Regions from separate parts of the Homo sapiens genome. Here region 2 is linked to region 1. Evidence: fine-mapped expression QTL. A gene starts in region 1. The other region holds a variant in brackets. All regions are shown on one strand. Distances are between the middles of the regions.

Region 1 (9,160 bases):
CCCAGCTAATTTTTGTATTTTTAGTAGAGAAGGGGACTCACCTTGTTGGCCAGGCTGGTCTCAAACTCCTGACCTCAGGTGATCCACCTGCCTTGGCCTCCCAAAGTGCTGGGATTACAGGCATGAGCCACCGCGCCAGGTTCAAAATACCTTTTCGAATAGGCATTATCTTTTTTAAAAATTTTTTTTAATAGAGACAGGGTCTTATTATATTGCCCAGGCTGGTCTCCAACTCCTAACCTCAAGCTATTCTCTCAGCTCGGCCTCCCAAAGTGTTGAGATTACAGGCATAAGCCACCACACCCGGCCTGAACAAGCATTATAGTGTTGCTTCCTGGCCTGTGAGCAGGAACCTTGTCTGAGGAAAGAGAAATCTGCATCCTGGCTCTTACGAAAGCTCCCCTGCCGGTCCCAGGGAGTTCTCAGTACAATCAAGGACAGAGAAGAACCCAATGATAGATTGGTGTGATTGGTATTATTAGGGGAGCACAGGGGAAGAACAGGAAAGTTACACTTTGTCAAGTGTAAGAAAGTATTCATGGAAGGCTTGCTGGAGGAAGTGATATCTAGGCTGAGACTTGAAAGATGAGTACACATTTATCTGGTGAAAGGAGTAGAAATAGAGTGTTCGGACTGAAGAACTGCTTGTGCAAAGTCCCAGAAGCTTCCTGTATCCTTGTGGGGACCTGATGGTGTCCCTTAAGGCCTGGACAGGGAGGCTGAGAGACTCTAGGCTTTCCAGATTCAGCTCCTTCACCCTGCTGGGGCTCTGCATCTTGAAATGCCTCTGCTTTTGCTCATGGCTGGTTCTGAACTTTGCCCCAGCTGCAGGGTAGGAACACCACGTGCCCCAGCCTGCACATGGCAGGGGATGGGGGGCGGAGCTCATGTCACAAGGCCCATGGGGTGGGCTCCGCAGAGGCTGTAGTGTTCCAGGAGAGGGGTGCCATGAAAGCGCGGTTAGTAGCCTGCAAAGTGTTGAAGGGTAAAGCTGCCTGTGAAGCAAAGGGAAGGTGCAGGTTGGAGGATGGACTGAGCCAGGCGGTCTGCGTTGGGCTGGCACTGGGAAGGGGCCTTCACAGCCACAGGGAGAGCAACGCTGGTGGGACTGGCCGGGGAGCCTGCTGCGCTTTGCTAAGAGCCAGGATGGAGGTTTCTCTTTCCCCAGAAAAGCCTCCTGTTCACAGGCAGGCATCTGCCCGGCTTCAGGAAAACAGCAGCCGCGTGATGGCCTGGAGGAGGGTGGTGTGGGGAGGCATAGAGGGGGTGCCTTCTGGGGACAGGTTCCAGGGGTTTATGTCACTGGGGAGGTGGGTCACAAGAGGGATTTGGTGAGGGAAGAGATGCTGGGGTTGGGCAGGGGCAGGAGATTGTAGAATGGAACCTGCCTCCATGCTGCCAGGAAGCCCTTGGGCTACAGCCACGCAGCCAGGCACATGGCAGGACATTGCCAGACCCACCAGCAGAAGCAGATTTGGGAAGCCAGCAATGGGGGGAGTCAGTGCTCAGGCTGAACTGCTCCTCGGAATCACACCAGTGTTTCCAAGCTGCAGCAAATGGGCAGAGAGGGCTGGTGTGTGTGTGTGTGTGTGTGTGTGTGTGTGTGTGTGTGTGTGTGTGTGTGTGTGTGTGTGTGTGTGTGTGTCTGTGTGTCTGTGTATGTAACGGAATGGAGGAGGCAGAGAAAGAAAGAGGCCAGGAGCTTTTGTCTCCCACCCAGGCCTGCCTTGAGAAGTCACCTGAATAGAGGAAAATGGACTCCTCAGGGCCTGGGGTGGGAGGGCGCAGTGAAGGGAGTGGGAGGCTTCCTGTGCTGTGAGACGCTGCTGCCTGCCGGGTGCTAACAGCTGGGGACAGGGATGGGCATGAGAAGGCCCAACAGCACCTTGCTTGCTGGTGGGGAAGCCTGGCCTCTGGGAGTGGCCCTGTTTTCCAGGATCTGGCATTGGAGAGATGGGCAAAGATGAAGGGACGTGCCAGATCCTCAGCTGGGGTACCAGGGGCTGGAGGCTGTCTTGAATAGCAGAGTGGGGGTCCCGGGGCAGTCCTGGCCAGGGCTGGCTGGGAAGAGGCCTGGTTTTAGCCACAACTGGGGCACAGGCCGGCGGCTGCAGCTTGCTAGTGGTCTGCCCCTCATACAGCGTGGGGAATGCTGCCATCTGAGCTGTGAGTAGTGAACCGCTGGAGCTCCTCGCAGGCTGGCCTGAGGAGGAGGTCTGCAGAGGTCCCCAGACGGCCTAGGGTGGGACATGGATGGGGCGGCTTGACAGTGACAAGGGGCTGCAGAGGATGGGCTGGGGGGCACTGGTAGGAGAAGGTGGGGACTTGGAGGAACTCTGATGATAAGAGGGAACTGATTGGGGCGCCAACCATGACAGCCCTAGAGGTGAAATGATGGGGAAGGACTTTGATTTGGAGAAAGGCTGAAAGAGGGAACTGCATGCAAAAAGCAGGGCTGGGAATTGAGGGAACCTCCCCAGCAAAGCTCCTGCCTCTGCCTGAAACAGTTCACTGAGTGTGAGCGGGGCGGGGCGGGGGCTGTGGGGGTGCAATTTCATTTGACACCCACATTTTTGTCCAAGACCCTTCCACCCCAATCAACACTACACCTTGGAATTCACACAGTCCAGCCTGGTTGAGGCTTCCAGGCTGAGCTGGCTTTTTCTCCCAAGGCAGAAAGGGCATTGGCTCTAGCTTACAGTCCGAGCAGCCACCCTCTCCTGCTTCATGACTTTGGGTGGACGGGAGTTCTGTCTTCCTACTCCTTGCTCCACAGGGGCTATGGTCCTGCCAGGACAGGTGAAAGGTGATGTCAACTGGCATCTGGCATTCAGCTGGTCTCTGGAGGTGGGTGGAGGGAACAGGGTGTCCGTGGGAGAGACCCTGGCCTGCCGTGGGAATCATGCAGAGATCTCAAGTTATGATTTTCTCTGGCGCAGGGGCTCTTTGGCACACAGAAGATGGGGTAAGTCTCTTCAATGCCAAACATGTGGAGGAAGAACATGTGTGAGCATGGTTTACTTTCTCTCCTAAATATGTATTCAAATAAGTACTTTCTGGTTTATGGAGGGTGAGTTCTAACCAGAAATGAGAAGTAAGTAGCACTGTCAGTCATTGTTAACCTCTTGGCTAGCTCTGAGTAGATTGAGAAAGGGGTGGGAGAAGCATCCTCCAACAACCGAGCACTTCCTGTACATTGACCAGGTAGGTAGGCACGTTGATCACAAACACCTTGAGGGACAGCTTCCAAGTATATGCATTCACAGATGAGAAGCATGCTTCAGACAACACAAAATTCATTTTTAACCCGGCTTTCTTTTGGCAGTAAATTTCTCTTCCTAATCATATTTTGCATAAACTAATATTAGAGTGGATTTGCATTTTCAGAGCACAAGATGGAGGAGTGGTGGAGGCGGTTCAGGTGGGTGGCAGGCTGGTCTGGGCTTTAAAAATTGTCCAGAGGTAACTGAGGAGATGAATCAAACCAGACTGAGCTGACTACTTAACACTAGCAGTCAAGATCATCCTGGCTGGGCATGGTGGCTCACGCCTGTAATCCTAGTACTTTGGGAGGCCAAGGCAGGCAGATCACCCGAGGTCAGGAGTTCGAGACCAGCCTGGCCAAGGTGGTGAAACCCCGTCTCTACCAAAAATACATAAATTAGCTGGGAATAGTGGCGTGCACTTGTAGTCCCAGCTACTCGGGAGGCTGAGGCAGAACTGCTTGAACCCAAGAGGCGGAGGTTGCAGTGAACCAAGATTGCACCACTGCACTCCAGCCTGGGCAACAGAGGGAGACTCAAAAAAAAAAAAAAAAAAAAAAGATTATCCTGATAAAACCAGCCTTGAATATGGAAAGTGTCTTCTAGGGACCCCTCAGGTTATAGATGTTATACCTTAGAATCTCTCTATTTTACAGAGGGGTAAATTGAGGCAGAAAACCCAAAGAAGGCTTAGGGACGATTTTCGAGGCTACTCACTTCATGGTGTTTCTTTCAGAGATTAGCAGCTATTACTGAACTCCAGGAGGCAACAGGAGGGGGATGGGATGGAGGTGGGGACCCGCTGAAGAAGGCCTAGGTGGGAGACAGGTAACGTGGTACAGGTACCCACCCCACAACTCATTAAGGGCCATGGAGGGAGGAAGGCTCTCAAGTGCCACGAAAATTCCCAAAGCAGCAGAGGGCTTGTATGGAAACGCCGGTTATTCGTCCCTACCCGGCCCCCGCCCCCCGCCCCCCCGACTGCCCCTGCCGTCGCCTCCCCGTGGGCAAGTGGTGGGGGCCTGGGCTTACAACCACACGTTCTCCTCCAACTAGCATCCCTTCCAGGGTGCACTAGGATGCCTCTCAGAGGTTCTCCCCCGCCTCCCGAAGGAAAGGGGAAAACCCCGTGGGCGTCCGGAGAGCCTTTGCGCCTCGCCAGGTGGAGGGACCGGCGCCACCCAGACCCGCGAGCCGAGACCCTCCCCGCGGCGTCGCTGCGGGAGGGGCGGAAGAGCGCGGGCGGTGGGCGGGAGCGGTGCTGCGAGGCGGGATCTGCGGGGCGTCCAATCCCCTTCTTCCCCCGCCCGCCCCCTCCCCGCCCCCCGAACGCTTTCCACCAACTGCGCGCGGCAGTGGGCGGGGCCCGTCACGGCTGTCGTCTTGGGTGCGATTTTTTTCTCCTCCTTTTTTTACCCTCCCGTTTTTTTCTTTTCTTTTTTTTTTCCCTATCCTTTTTTTGTGAATGAAAAAAGGAGGTCGCGAGCGGTACCTGGGACTGCAGCGCCAGGCGTCTTCGCGGCAGCGCCTTCGCCGCGGGCCCGGGCGCGTAGCGGCGGCGGCCTCGCCCCTCTCCCGGCGCCCCTGCGCGCCGCCCGCTGCCTCCGCAGCCCGGCTCCGCGCGCCGCCGTGACATTGGGCGCCTGGCGCGCGGGGCGATGCTGATCCGGAAGGGGCAGCGGCTGCAGTGCAGCGCGCGCGTCCGCTCCTGGGCCCACGTCCGGCCTGGGCTGCCCTGCCGGAGTTTCTGAGTGGCCGCGAGCTGGCCGGGAGGCTGGAGCCCAGCAGCAGCGCGGCGGCGCCGGCGTCGTCCCAACTTGCAGGCGCGGAGGGACCCCTGACATTTCACTAAAATGAGCGTGCTCAGCAGGAAGAGATGTGTTCCTCACGCTAGAAGCCACCCCGTCACATGTAGTGGTGTAAGTAGATGGCTGCTTGCGGTTATGGCGGGGTGGCCAGCAGCCCTTGCAGACGCGCCGCTCCGCCCTCCCTGCCCTGCCGCGCCCCTCGCTACGTTCCCCGGGCCCCGCTAGTCCCTGGGCTCTGGCTTCGGCTGCTGGGTACAGCGGGGCTGGAGCCTAATCCTTTCCGGTGTTTCTAGGGAAAGGAAGATGACTTGATTGCTTCGGCCTGTCGTGCCCCTCCCCCTTCTCGATGTTTAAAAATTTTTAAATTTCTATTTTGTGTGTGTGCAGAGTAGCGTGTCAGAAAAAAGGAAAAACGGTCCAGAGTGGTGGGAGTGATTCTGTTAAGAAAACAAACACAAAACAACAGTGGAATTGGGGTGTTTTGCTGGCGGTTCCGGAGCTGGTTCTTTGAACTCAACTCCATTGCAGTCTATGTAACTGAGTTCTGTGAAACTACTGGGGAGATCTTTGGCGGTGTTTGGTGATGTGTCCACATTTTAGGTTTGAGGGGGCTTATCTGTGTTTAGGCTTGCATTTCTTTAATCTGACCATTCAGGGTCCCTTTGGGCCTTGCTTTCTGTTGGATCTGCACGGGGCTTCTTGCAATGCCAGCGACCCCCGTGGGAGCCTCCCCGAATTAGGAGTCCACTCTCTCTTTGTTCTTCTCCTTCCAATTCTCCATTCAATCCATCTCCCTTGATTTTACCTTCATTTTCAGGATTTTCCTCCCATTCCCATTTTGTAAGATGATGTGGGATACTGGTTGCTAGGAGACAAGCCAGGCTCCCAGGGAGATTCTGTTGTTTCCTTGACAACCAGACTAGGGCAGCCACAGATGAACAAGCCTCCTATCAGCTGTGGGAGGGAAAGGGGCCCTTTCTGAGCTCTGCAAAGAGTGTGTGTAGGGGTGTGGGGGTGGGACTGGGAGAGCACGAGGTTTGTAGCTAATTTCAGCACACCTTGGGTTTTGGCTTGCACCAAGTACAAAGAGCTGGGAGAGCGGTGGGCAGGAGGCTGTTTTTGGAGGGGCACAGGGATCATGGGACAGGGATGGAAGGAACACATGCCAGTGACTTTGCGATTGTCATGGAAGAGGAGTGAGTTGGGGGTTGTGATGCCCAGGGCTGGGTGGTGAGGAGGTCATAGTTTATGGAGGTTGATTGAGTGGGGATGAGGCAATTGTGAGGGAGAGTCTGGAGTCAGGGAAGAAGAGAGAGCCGGAGGGAGAGGGGAAGCTGAGAGGCTCACTGAATGGGCTGTATCACCATATATCAGCAATGAGTGGGCTGTATCACCATACATCAGCAATGATACAACATCAGCAACATCCTAGGGCAAAAATTATATTACTCTTGGCACACTCTCTCCAGGACAGGATCCTCCTTTAAGACAGGCCTGATTAGACTAAGAGTTCTAACACTTGAATTGGGCCAGTCTGTATCTTAAAGACAGATATAATTACACATATAGATATGCAATCTAGCATTATATAATACCACATTACATAAGAAGACAAATACCTCCTTTCAGCCCAGCCTCTCTTGGCACAAATTAACCACGGTTCAGGAGACTCTTCCAATGTCTTCATACCCATTTCCCAGAGGGGGAGACTGATGCCCAGAAAATATAAGTGACTTGCCTCTTCCTAGATAGGACAGTGAAGTTTGCCAGTCAGGCAGTTGGGACAGGGTAGAAAGGGTGAGATGATACAAACAGAGAGGCAGCTGAAGGACAAGGGGACTGCTGAAGGGGCTGGGGAATGGATGGAAGGGGTTGCGCAACCCAGAAGGTCTGATGTCTAAACTCATGGCACAGTATTTGTCAATTTCCACTTGTTGATTGGCTGACCACTGCTTAACTCTAGAGGTGACATAGCACAGGTGGGCAGCAGTGTTTTCATCACAAAGTAGCTGAACTTGGCCCAGCACTGCTCTGCTGGTGTTCTGGCATTATTCTCACTGTCAAGGTGCTCCTGAATTTGAGAACTGGCATCCCTCCATTAGGCCTCCTCATTCCCCCGCTTCTGTCTACAGACCTACATGCTGGGAGAATCGGAACTTGAGAAAGAAGTTCTTTTGGCTCTTGGGTTTTAATCTTTATCCTCCAGCTGCACATATTTTGTATTTGGGATTATATCTGTTTTGGTATTCACTCGACAAAACAGAAACCACAGCCCAGATGCTGCCTCCTGGCGCCAGCACATTCCTCAACTTGAGATCAGGAACTGTCAAAGTGGGGTTCCCGGTCCTCAGTTCAGGAGAGAGAATTGGGAGGAGGAAGCCTGTGGTTAGAATAACAGTTCTTAACAGTTCTCTGGGCCAGGTGTGGTGGCTCACGCCTGTAATCCCAGCACTTTGGGAGGCCAAGGCGGGCAGATCACTTGAGGTCAGGAGTTTAAGACCAGCCTGACCAACATGGCGAAACCCCGTATCTACTAAAAATACAAAATTAGCCGGCATAGTGGCACACACCTGTAATCCCAGCTACCTGGGAGGCTGAGGCAGGAGAATCACTTGAACCCAGGAGGCAGAGGCTGCAGTGAGCCGAGATCATGCCACTGCACTCCAGCCTGGGTGTCAAGCGCAAAACTCCGTCTCAAAAAAATACAAAAACAAAAAACGGTTGTCTGCTGAGGGAGGGTTAGGAGAGAGAAGGGGTGGTACAGTTGCCCTGGAGACCATGAGGGCACTGCATGGAGACCTCGTTGAAGGGTCCAGATCCTGTAACATTCCAAAAAGGCGGAGGAGGTTGTCTCATTGAGAAGTCCTTGCTGCACTTTTTGCTTAGGTTGCTGAGATGCATCCACTCGCACGGATCCCAGTTGCTATCGTTACTTGGATATTTCGGTCTGCATCCCTGCATGCTGGCATCCAGTTACAGCCCAGCAGGAATGGAGCCTCCCTGTTGTTGCTGGTGGCCTGGCTCTGGGCTGGATGGCTCAGCAGCCAGGGTGCCTGGGCAGCCTCCAGCACTCAGAGCTCAGCCTTCCTTAGCCTAGGAGGGATGACTCCGGGCTGCTAAAGCCCCCCCAGACGACTTTCATACACACAGGAATGTGAGTGGGGCGGGCAGATGACGCTGGCGAAACCAAGCGTCCTAATCACGCTGGCCCTGCCCCTGCTCCCTAATCCCAGGAGGGTGGATGCCGAGGCCAGGGCCTCCTGGCGACAGATTTTTAAACACGAACATGACATCTGACTACAGAAGTGCCTTCTGTTTGTTCATTCAAGCCATCCCTCTCTGGGGGTGGACAAGCCACTTCCTCTCTGCTCAACATCGAAGGCAACTGAGGCAAGCATTTGCCCAGAAATTCAGGCTCAAATTTCTGATCTTTTGCTTTCTGGCAATCCCATCGCCCATGTAGCCAGTTTAGTGAACATCACCTAGGAGTGCCAGCTGCCTGGGATCTTCAGCCTGAGGATCATCCTCCCTAGGAATGGGAAGGGCAGAAGAGGGTGGAGGTGGATCTCACTCTCTGACGCTGGGGGCAGGGTGCTGGGAGGACAGCCCCCCGTAGGGGAAGTAGAGGCCCATTGGCCACTGACTGTATCATCATAGGCCTGTGGTTCCCCTCACCCGCATCTGAAAGCTGGACCTGTAGCTGAGCATGACACATGGGCAACAGGACAGACCCCGAATAGAGAAAGGGAGGCCCCTGGGCTGGTCAGGTGCATCCAGGAACCTCCCCATCCTAGAGAGGCTGGGAGGAAAAACTCTTGCATCTCCATAAAGGGGACTGGGGTCTGGGGTTGAAGCATGCACTTAGGCAGGCTAGGGCTTGGAAATCCACCACCACCAGAGAGGGCAAGGGAAAGAGTGGAGGCCAGGAGAGCTGCTGCCCAGTTCTGACAAGTCCATTAAATTTTAAAGTGCCCTGCCCTCAGGCATGCTGGGAAGGGGTGGGGACGTGGCCGACTCTGCTTCTCTCAGCTGTTTGTTGTTCTGCTGCCACTGCTCTGCCGGGGAAGGAGGAGGAGAGCAGATGAGTGA
Region 2 (9,811 bases), 110 kb after region 1:
CAGCGAGACTCCATCTCAAAAAAAAAAAAAAAAAAAAGGAGAAATACTAATTATTTTTTTTTCTAGGAAGCTCATTGGCACTGTCAAATTTGAAGAAGAGGCGTGCTCTGACTGGTGAGTGACTGCAGTGGGTCAGGCTGGTCTTAGAGCAGTAGCAGGTTATGTCCATAGATATTAGATAGGACTATTAATAGTTTCAGGTTACAGCTGCCAGGCTTACAGAGAATTGCAGTTTGGGGGTAATACAGTGATTTTTCTTCCCCATGGCCTCTTGACTCTGTTTTAGTTGGGTGTGACAAGAATGACCCAATTTGTGCAATCAACTTTCACATTCTGCTTCCCAACTCTATGACCAAGACGTTGAGGACTGTTCATGAGCCAGAAAACAACTCAAGTACAGGGGCTTTTGCTGCTGTCAAATCTTCCATCACGCTAGGAAAACAGCATGCAATCCAACCCACCTAGCCAATTTGCCTTTGCCTTCTTCCATCAGAGGGGTGGCCTTCCAAATAGGATGTTGACCATTCACCTAGGAATGACTGTCTACAAACTAAGTAGCTCTTGGTTGGTCAGTAAAGAGCTGCGTATAGGGCAGTGTCCAAGTGACCACAGAATCCAGCAGCTCCTCACTCAGTTCCAGACTCAGTCTGTGGGGAACAGAGGCTCCCTGCTCATGAGTGTCTCCTCTTTGCCTTCCTCAGGCACCAGGATCCCGTATCAACCATTTCCATTTTGTAATAGAACTCTTCGGGGACTGCCCTCCCCGTTAGAGCTTTTCCAAGATCTCTGAAGACATCATGAGTTTTTCAGGTTTCAAGATTATTTTATGTCCTTCAGTCACAGGGGGAGCTTCAGCTAGTGTTCCATCGTAAGCTAGTAAGTGCCTCTCAAATGGAAACTTTATAGTCTAAAGGCCCAGTTCCCTGGAGGTGCTCACAGCCTTTTGCCATTAGCCCTAGGCAGTGCTCCACACAGGGCACAGAGAATGTGTGTTACCTGCAGTCTGGTTTCTAGTCTACACTGTGTAGTCCACCCTCCAGGGCCAAGGGGCCTGGAGTGCTCTAAAGACTTTCCTGCAGGCCCTCGTGGCTCTGTGTTAATGCTGTCAGTCTTCCTGAAGTCCTGTCCTCTCACCTCCTGCCTAGATCTGCCCCCAGCACACATTCCTGACTCCACACATTTCTCAGTGCCTGCGACCTGGCACACATTTCTGATCCGAACTCAGTGCCTGGGGCCTGGCAGGTGCCCAGGGCACTCCATTGCTCAAATCCAAGCCTGTGGAGAGGATGACATATCATTCCCAGGTTTCTGATGAGCAGAAAAAAAAATCTTTGTTTCTATAGTGCTATCCTCTTTTATCCACCATGTGAGAGGTCAGGAGCCGACTCACCCCAAGGGTCTAGGAGTTGTGCCATTGACCTTACTGCCTAGGGTCACAGGCTGGCACCCTTCAGTACCACACATTGGATCTCTCCACACAGCAGCAGTGTGCTTAACTCAATGGGGAGGTGAGTAGCCCAAGGTCAGATAGTTGGACCTGGATAGACACTTGACTGGGGGACAGGCTTTGGAAGCCACTCCCCTGGGCCTCCTCTGTCCATGGGGCCTCAATACTAGAGCCCACAAGGTCGGCCAGAGAGTGTCTGTGCCTCGACCATGCAAAGGGTGCCAGGTTGTGGCTAGGGATGCCCCCGGGGTTCCTCTCCCTCCTACCTACTCCTCAGCCTCTGCATGTGCCCGTCATGGCCCCTGTGTCCTTCATTCTGTCCACTCATGTGTTCACTGGGCCCCTCCTTGGTGCCAGGCACCCGCTACTGAGGGATACCAAGCCCCTGCCAGAGAAGCTTGGAGCTGGGTCACAGCAGCAAGGAGGCTGGAGACATCAGTGGCATCAGTGCACTGGTCAGTGAGGCCGCTGTGGGAGGAGGGAGTGGGAGCAGAAGCTAAGAGTGGACTGAAGTCCTTAGGCCAGGAGGTAGTTCAGGGTTTAAGAAGAGGAGAGACAGGCGTCCCGGGGAGGGAGCAGGCTCAGGATGGGCCTCCAGTGCCTCCTCTGGAGCTCACTACCCAGACTACAGCAGCGCAGTGGGCAGCGCCTCAGCTCCTTCCCCTTCTGCTGCCTACAGCCTGGACAGGACCCGGAATCAAACCGCAGGCCCTGGGTCACCGCTGCCGGAAAGAGCCAGTTCCTGTCCGTCCATGCACCCACCACCAAAACCCAGGCCTTCCTGGAGGTGCTAGGGGAGGCCATGCCCCTTTTCTGAGTGCTTGGAAGTGACTGCTGCAAGTGACAAGTGACCACGCCTTTTCCCCCGCGGGTATAAATTCAGAGGCGCTGCGCTCCGATTCTGGCAGTGCAGCTGTGGGAACCTCTCCACGCGCACGAACTCAGCCAACGATTTCTGATAGATTTTTGGGAGTTTGACCAGAGATGCAAGGGGTGAAGGAGCGCTTCCTACCGTTAGGGAACTCTGGGGACAGAGCGCCCCGGCCGCCTGATGGCCGAGGCAGGGTGCGACCCAGGACCCAGGACGGCGTCGGGAACCATACCATGGCCCGGATCCCCAAGACCCTAAAGTTCGTCGTCGTCATCGTCGCGGTCCTGCTGCCAGTGAGTCCCGGCCGCGGTCCCTGGCTGGGGAAGAGCGCACCTGGCGCCGGGAGGGGGCAGGGAGACGGGGACACGGCAGGGATGCCTGGCCCTGGTCACCTGCGGCCGGGCATGTCCGGGCAGGACGAACTCGCCGTCGGAGTCAGGGGAAGAACTGGGTCCCCGGGCTGGGCAGGAGGGACCCGGCCGCGAGGGAGCAGAGAGGCGGTCCCCCTGGCTGCCCCGAGCCCGCGAAGGGAGGGAAGTTCCAGAATCGAGAGAGGGAGGGAGTCAAGGTGGAACCCATAGAGTGAGCCTCCTGAAGACACAGAGCGGTTGCCTCTCTCATTAATTAATTAATTAGTTAATAAAATTAACCCCATGTTTACATTCTTAAACGTGTTCCTTGGAGATCGGTTTAACCAACAGCCAGTGAAAAAACTTTTCAGCGCTGTCTTTAGCAACTTTCACCTCCTCTGTCCTGAAAGTGGCAGGAAGCCGGAATGTGGCAGGAAGCGGTTAACCAAGGTGCTGCCTTGGTTAATGTCTTCCACTACCACCCGTGTGTCCCCTCTGTATCCCATAGGCAGGACCGGGGCTGGCCCCTTCCTTCAGCATAAACGGTGTAAAGTTGTTGTGAGTTGGCTTTGGAAACTGAGATTGGTAGTAGTGTGAGTGCAAGGACATATTATGTATAAAATATGCAGACTTCTAGGTCTCTTTCAGATTGATTGAGGTTTTTGCTAACAGCCCTTTTTAAGATTCTTTATGTAATACAAAAAAAAGAAAAAAGAAAAAGAAAAGGCCAAAGCAAGGTTACAGAAACCATGAGAGTTTGCATGTTGTCTTTCTACAAATTAATGCTAAATTCAGAAAAGCAGTAACATTTTCACCTCTCAAAAATTACACAACTGACTTTTAAAATAGTTTATAGTGGGTGGACTTACCTGAGGCAGCTAGAAGAATGGCTGTGTCAGGACAGTGGCCCTGAAGAGAGAATGCATGGATGACCAGTGTAGACAAGGCCAGCAACATCAGTTTCACGGTTTTGGGAATGTGAACTCTATGCGTCCCAAAGGAGGCTTTAATCCCTCCATCAGTCTTGCCTTATTAAATGCATTTAAATGTACAATCACTTTGTTAAATTTTGGAGCTAACACAAATCACATTAGATGTTTTATGGCAGTACATTCAGATTGATCTTCTTTTAAACAAGGGTATTGTATTTTACTGCATGGGTAAGCCACATTTTAATTCACTGTTGCCGCCTAGGGGCAGCTGGTTAGATCCCATCCTGACGGCCTTTGCTAATTCCAACAGCATTGTACTAAATACCCTTGTATGTATCGTGTGTCCACATATCCATGCACACCAGCTTATTGGGCAACTCCTTACAAGTTGAATTCTACTTCTCCTTCTGTGGGATAAATGACTTCAGAAGTTTCTTTAAATGTTCACGAATTTTCCTCCAAAAAACCACTGAACCCAGCTTACAGTCACACCTAGTCCACAAATGTGCCTGTGTCCCTACACCTTTGCTACACTTAGCTTTCATTCTTTACTAGTCTAAGATGTAAAACATAACACATCACATTGCTATGTATTTTTGTTTCCTCATGGTATTAGGAATTTTCAAGGATATAGGAGTTTTTTGGTACTGGGAGTAGACCAGGG[T/G]ATCCAGATGAGACAGCAGGGAAGACTGAATTCTGAGCTGTGCACTTGGAAAACCCTGGTCAGTTGGGGCCAGTCCCTGCCACCCACCATGCCTGTGAATGGAGATAAGGTCTCCATCCTCAGCCTGTCAGGGTGACTTCAGATGAGCCTGGAGCTGAGTTCAGTTCCTGACCCCAGGTCCTGGCTCTGTCAATGCTGGGCTGGTCCAATCTGTGCGCCAGGTCCTTCCACACCATTCCTCTCTCTATCAAAGTAGGAATTGAGAAGTTCCAACGGCTCAGAATCTCGGACTCTCAGGCTGTCAAGGACTCCTGAGATTGAAGGTTGTGAATGGCTGGGCCCTGCCGTGCTCCCCCTCTGGCTCTGTGACTCTGGTGTGGCCCCAGCTCCTGCCTGTAAAGTGAAGAGGAGGTAAAAATCTTCAGCAGCCCTGTGTAAACCTCAGAGGGCTGTGTTACCAGGTGTGGGAGGACAAATCACATCCTCAGGGCTGGTGTCACTCACTCTGGACTGGATCCCCAGGCACCTGTCCTCCATCCAGCAGAGGCTGCCCCTGTTCCTACCTGCACCCTGGTACTTGCTCCCTGAGCTTGGGGCAGAAGCTTCTGAAGACTAGGGTGGAGCACCACGGGGAGGGGCCATGGAGGAACAGAGGAGCCAGACGTCAAGTGAGGACAGCGATGGCACTGCAGGGCCACAGCCTGGTTTACCTGCCATGCTTCCAGTTGTCCTTCTGGTAGGCGCCTGGCCCGGGTTGTAGTTTGAAGAGTGAGCAGGAAATGTCTCCATCCAGGTGGCTGCAGATGGCTACTCACCCAGGCTGTACTGAGAGGCCACAGTCCCAGTTCTGGTCCTCTGTCGTGTATCCAGGAGTGGCAGGGCAGTGAGGCTCTAGCTTCTAGGTCAGGGATGGGGACAGTGGGGACAGTGCCATGCCCCGAGCCTCTGCCGTTGGGCAGCTGGTATCCTGCTTCCAGCCAGAGAATGCACATCTTCATGTAGTGGATTTCCTAACAACCCGGGGAGATGAAGGTAGGTTGTTTTTCCTGTTTTACAAGTGGTAAAATGAGATTCAGGGCTAGAGTTCTCTGAGCAGCTGCTTCTCTGATCTCTGTCCTGCCCTTGGCCTCTGGGAGCTCTTATGGTTCCTCAGCAGAGTTCACAGGGCTCTTGGAGCCTGTCCTTCGGCCTTGAGCTGAGGCCACAACTGCGCGCACTTCATAGGCTTGAGGGGAAAGTGATTCATCCAGGAAGTAAACAGTGAGCCCTTTACTCTGAGAACACCTGTGCCTGGAGTCCGCCGGAGTTTGGGAGGACAAATGAACCCCATGTGAATCCTGTTCCCTGGAGCCCGCAGTGTGGTGGGAGAGGTGACCCAGGGATTATATAACTAATAGGAGGTAGCATGAAGGAGGCCTGAGATCTCACTACCCTTGCCTCCCCCTCCTCCAGAGAGGCTGTGCTGGAGAGAGGCCATGCTGTTGCAGGGCCATAGGATGTGGTACTGTTGGCCTGGAAGATGTGGTTTGATTACAGTCACCATTGAGGGTCAGGGAGGGGAGCGAAGCTCTCCTTTAGATGCCCCCCCACCCGATTTTTTTTTTTTTTTTTTTAGCTGGGCCTGAGAATTTGATTCACCTAAGAGAGGTCCACAGGAGACAAGCACACACATTTATTTAATTCAAGTTTTACCTGGCATGGAAGAACCTGTGAGAGTCAGTTACTTATTTACTGAATTAGACCAAGTAACTCATGAAGAAGCAAGTAACTATGTGAGGAGCTAAAAAGATGAGAGTGGATCCATTCTAACATGGTCTGCACAGTACCCTCTTGGCCTCGACTTCTCATCCTTAAAAATAAGGAAATTGTCAGCTGGGTGCGGTGGCTCACGCCTGTAATCCCAGCACTTCGGGAGGTCAAGGCAGGTGGATCACGAGGTCAGGAGATCGAGACCATCCTGGCTAACACAGTGAAACCCCGTCTCTACTGAAAATACAAAACAATTAGCGGAGTGTGGTGGCGGGTGCCTGTAGTCCCAGCTACTGGAGAGGCTGAGGCAGGAGAATGGTGAGAACCTGGGAAGCAGAGCTTTCAGAAAAAAAAAAAAAGGAGATTGTCCTATGTTTCCCTGGGGACTTTCATCTCCTGCTTTTAGGAAACACAAAAGAGGTCAAAGGATCTTCTTGCACCTGTTGTTTTTCAATAGCCTTTAATTCATAATAGTCAATTGACCAGGGTGGGCAGGGTGCGATGGCTCACACCTGTAGTCCTGCCAAGACAGGCAGATCACTTGAGCCCAGGAGTTCAAGACCAGCCAGGGCAACATAGCAAAACCCGGTCACAACAACAACAACAAAAAACCAAACAAACAGAAAAACAGAAAAACACAGAAAATTATGTCGTGTGAAGGAATCCACACAGAATGCTTACCATCTGATTCCATTTCTCATTAAAATTCGACCAATCTATTCTGACAAAAAGCAGAATTATTGCTGGGGACATAGGAGCAAAGCGGAAGAGAGGATTACATTGAAGAATGAAGAAATTCTGGGGTGTGGTGGACATGTCATTTTCTTATCGTGGTGGTAGTTCCACAATGTATACACACGTCTCAATCTACCAAACTACATGCTTCAAAAATGTACACTTTGTTTCATGCCCATTATACCTCAATGAATCCATTTTTAAAAAACCTTCAATAGAATGTAAACACTTGAGTGTATACTGTATTCCCTATAGCACTTGCACATAGATCATGGAAATAGGTATGCATAAAAAGTCAGTTTATCCAATTAAAATGGAATTCTAAAAGGTAATTAACATTAAAATGTGCAGGGGGAAAAGGAGTAAAAAAATTAGACTAGACAATCATAGCTTAAATGGTAAACTTACAGGTCTATTTCAACTATATCAATTATTGCACTCCCTGTAAATCCACTGAGCACTACAGTTCAATGGTAGAAATGTTTGGAAGGGCTGAGAAAGCAAGACTCAACTATATCTTGTCTATATGAGATGGGCCTTAAAAGGAAGACACAGATGTTGTCTGTTGAAAGTAAATAGATGGAAAAAGATACACCATGCAGAGTGTAAGGCCAAGAAAACTGCCATGGCTATCTCAGTATCAGATGAAGTTGATTTTGTTAGCGGTGGATGAGATCCGAGTTACCCTACGTTGAAGGCGGCGAATCCGTATGCGTCCACAGCACCTTCAGCTCTTCGCCTCCTGAGAAGAAAGAACTGGTTTGAGGGGCATAAGGCAGAAGCAGAGATGGAGGCAAGTTTCAGAGCAGGAGTGAAAGTTTATTAAAAAGCTTTAGAACAGGAAGGAAAGGAAGGAACAGGAAGGAAAGGAAGGAACAGAAAGAAAAGAAGGAAAGTACACTTGGAAGATGGCCAAGCAGGTGACTTGAGAAACAGTACGCAGCCGGACCGCCTGAGTTGGGGTTTTATAGGTTGGCCTACTTCCAGGATCTTGCCTTACTTCTCCCCACTCCTGAAATCTTATTGGGAAGCTGCTGATCAGTTTCAAGTGTTTTCTATGTATTAGGAAACTGCTTTTTTCTGGCATCGGCTGTAACCAGTTATTACTTTAGAGACACAGTTATCAACTACCTGATGGTCGCCCAACACTGCTGGTGTCAGAAGCGGGGACCCCTCTCCTGTCCTGCTCATACCTAACTAGCTGCCTACTGTGACAATTTTAGGACATTGAATATTATGGGAGATGAAAAGGGACCTTTGTAGTTAAAAGGGTTAATTCTTCAAGGAGTATAATAACAACAAATTGTATATGCCTAGTAATACATCTTCAAAACACATGACACAAAAATAGAATTAAAAAGAGATTAACTCAGCTGTTTCTCTGCACTTGCTAGCATGATTAGATGAAAATGCCAGTAAAGTGGCAAGCGATCTGCACACTATCAACCACCTTGATTTAACTGACATTTAAAGAGCAGGAGTGGAACATTCACTGAACACTCATTCCTTTCTATGCTCATGATACTTTCACCAAGATAGACCAGGTTCTGGGCTATAAAACACACAATATGATCTCTAAACTTAATGAAACTAAACTGGAAATCAGTAACAATATCCACAGAGAATTCTAAAATTTTGATATTGAACAACACACTTCTAAAAATCTGTGGTTCAGACAGGAAATCAAAAGGGAAGGTAAGATATTTCAAAGTAAGTAATAATGACAATATAACACATCAAAAGTGGTGCGAAATAGCTAACAGTGCTCAGGGTGAAATATACAGCTTTCAATGTTTGTATTAAAAAACTGGGGGTTAGGGAGATGGGGAGTTACTGCTGAAGGGTATGTAGTTCCTTTCTGGAGTGATAAAAATATTCTAAAATTGATTATAGTGATGATTGCATAGCTATGAGTATATTAAAAACTGCTGAAGTGTGGACTTTAAATGGGTGAATTATATGAATAATCATAATTATTAATTATGTGAATTGTGTCTCACTAAAGCTGTCAAAAAAAGAAAAAACGTGAAAATTATGGGCCGGGCACGGTGGCTCACATCTGTAATTCCAGCACTTTGGGAGGCCGAGGAGGGTGGATCACGAGGTCAGAAAATCGAGACCATCCTGGCTAACACGGTGAAACCCTGTCTCTACTAAAAATACAAAAAATTAGCCAGGCGTGGTGGCGGGCACCTGTAGTCCCAGTTACTTGGGAGGCTGAGGCAGGAGAATAGCATGAACCTGGGAGGTGGAGCTTGCAGTGAGCCGAGATTGTGCCACTGCACTCCGGCCTGGGAGACAGCGAGACTCCATCTCAAAAAAAAAAAAGAAAAAGAAAAAGAAAATTATGGCCTGAGGAGCTACATTAATCAATCATAAAATATAAGTGTAAATTTAAACCAAACAAAGTAACAGGAAGGAGCATAAATCAAAGAATACAAACCACAGAAAGAACTGAGAAAACCAACTGTGTGCGGTGGCTTACGCCTGTAATCCCAGTACTTTGGGAGGCCCAGGCAGGCAGATCACTTGAGCTCAGGAGTTAAACCACTCTGGGCAACATGGCGAAACCCCAGCTCTACAAAATATGTGAAAATTAGATGGGCGTTGTGGCACACACCTGTCTTTGGGGACTGAGGTGGCAGGACCACTTGAGCCTGGGAGGCAGAGGAGGCAAAGGTTGTAGTGAACCGAGATTACACCACTGCACTCTGCGCTCCAACATGGAGGACAGAGGGAGACCCTGTCTCCAAAAAAAAAAAAAAAAAAAAAAAAAAGACAAAATGAAAAGTTGGTCTTCTGAAAGGATTTTAAAAAACACTAATAAACCCCTCATTAAATGAGAGGGAGTAAGAGTGTGAGAGCAGAGAAAGGAGACGCAGACATCGCCTGAACCTAGAGGGACTCCAACCCGGGAAAGAATGATTTGGGAAAAGTGGGTTAGCTTCACTGTCACCAACTGCTAGTCAGGCTTTGATGTGGAAGAAAGCTACATTTTGTCTTGTTTAGATCCAGGCAGTTGAACTGAGCCCAACATAAGCAGCTTTCATTGTAACCATTTTG

Evidence for each region. PIP is the estimated chance that this variant, and not a neighbour inherited with it, causes the effect.
Region 2: its variant is fine-mapped to the expression of RHOBTB2 in esophagus mucosa (GTEx, PIP 0.93).

The regions. Positions count from the first base shown.
Region 1 is chr8:22,994,924-23,004,083 of GRCh38, forward strand. It overlaps RHOBTB2 (Rho related BTB domain containing 2), which reads left to right and starts at 4,625. Exons shown (of 10, transcript NM_015178.3): 1 at 4,625-5,182. It overlaps RHOBTB2-AS1 (RHOBTB2 antisense RNA 1), which reads right to left and starts at 4,882. Exons shown (of 2, transcript XR_007060857.1): 1 at 4,756-4,882. RefSeq lists silencers at 4,305-4,564, 4,785-4,954, 5,285-5,334 and an enhancer at 8,832-9,160.
Region 2 is chr8:23,100,571-23,110,381 of GRCh38, forward strand. It overlaps TNFRSF10C (TNF receptor superfamily member 10c), which reads left to right and starts at 2,351. Exons shown (of 5, transcript NM_003841.5): 1 at 2,351-2,611. The coding sequence starts at 2,552. It overlaps LOC254896 (a long non-coding RNA gene), which reads left to right. Exons shown (of 4, transcript NR_046173.1): 3 at 67-114; 4 at 2,127-2,988. RefSeq lists an enhancer at 2,416-3,225. The variant T/G (reference allele first, on the strand shown) is at 4,265.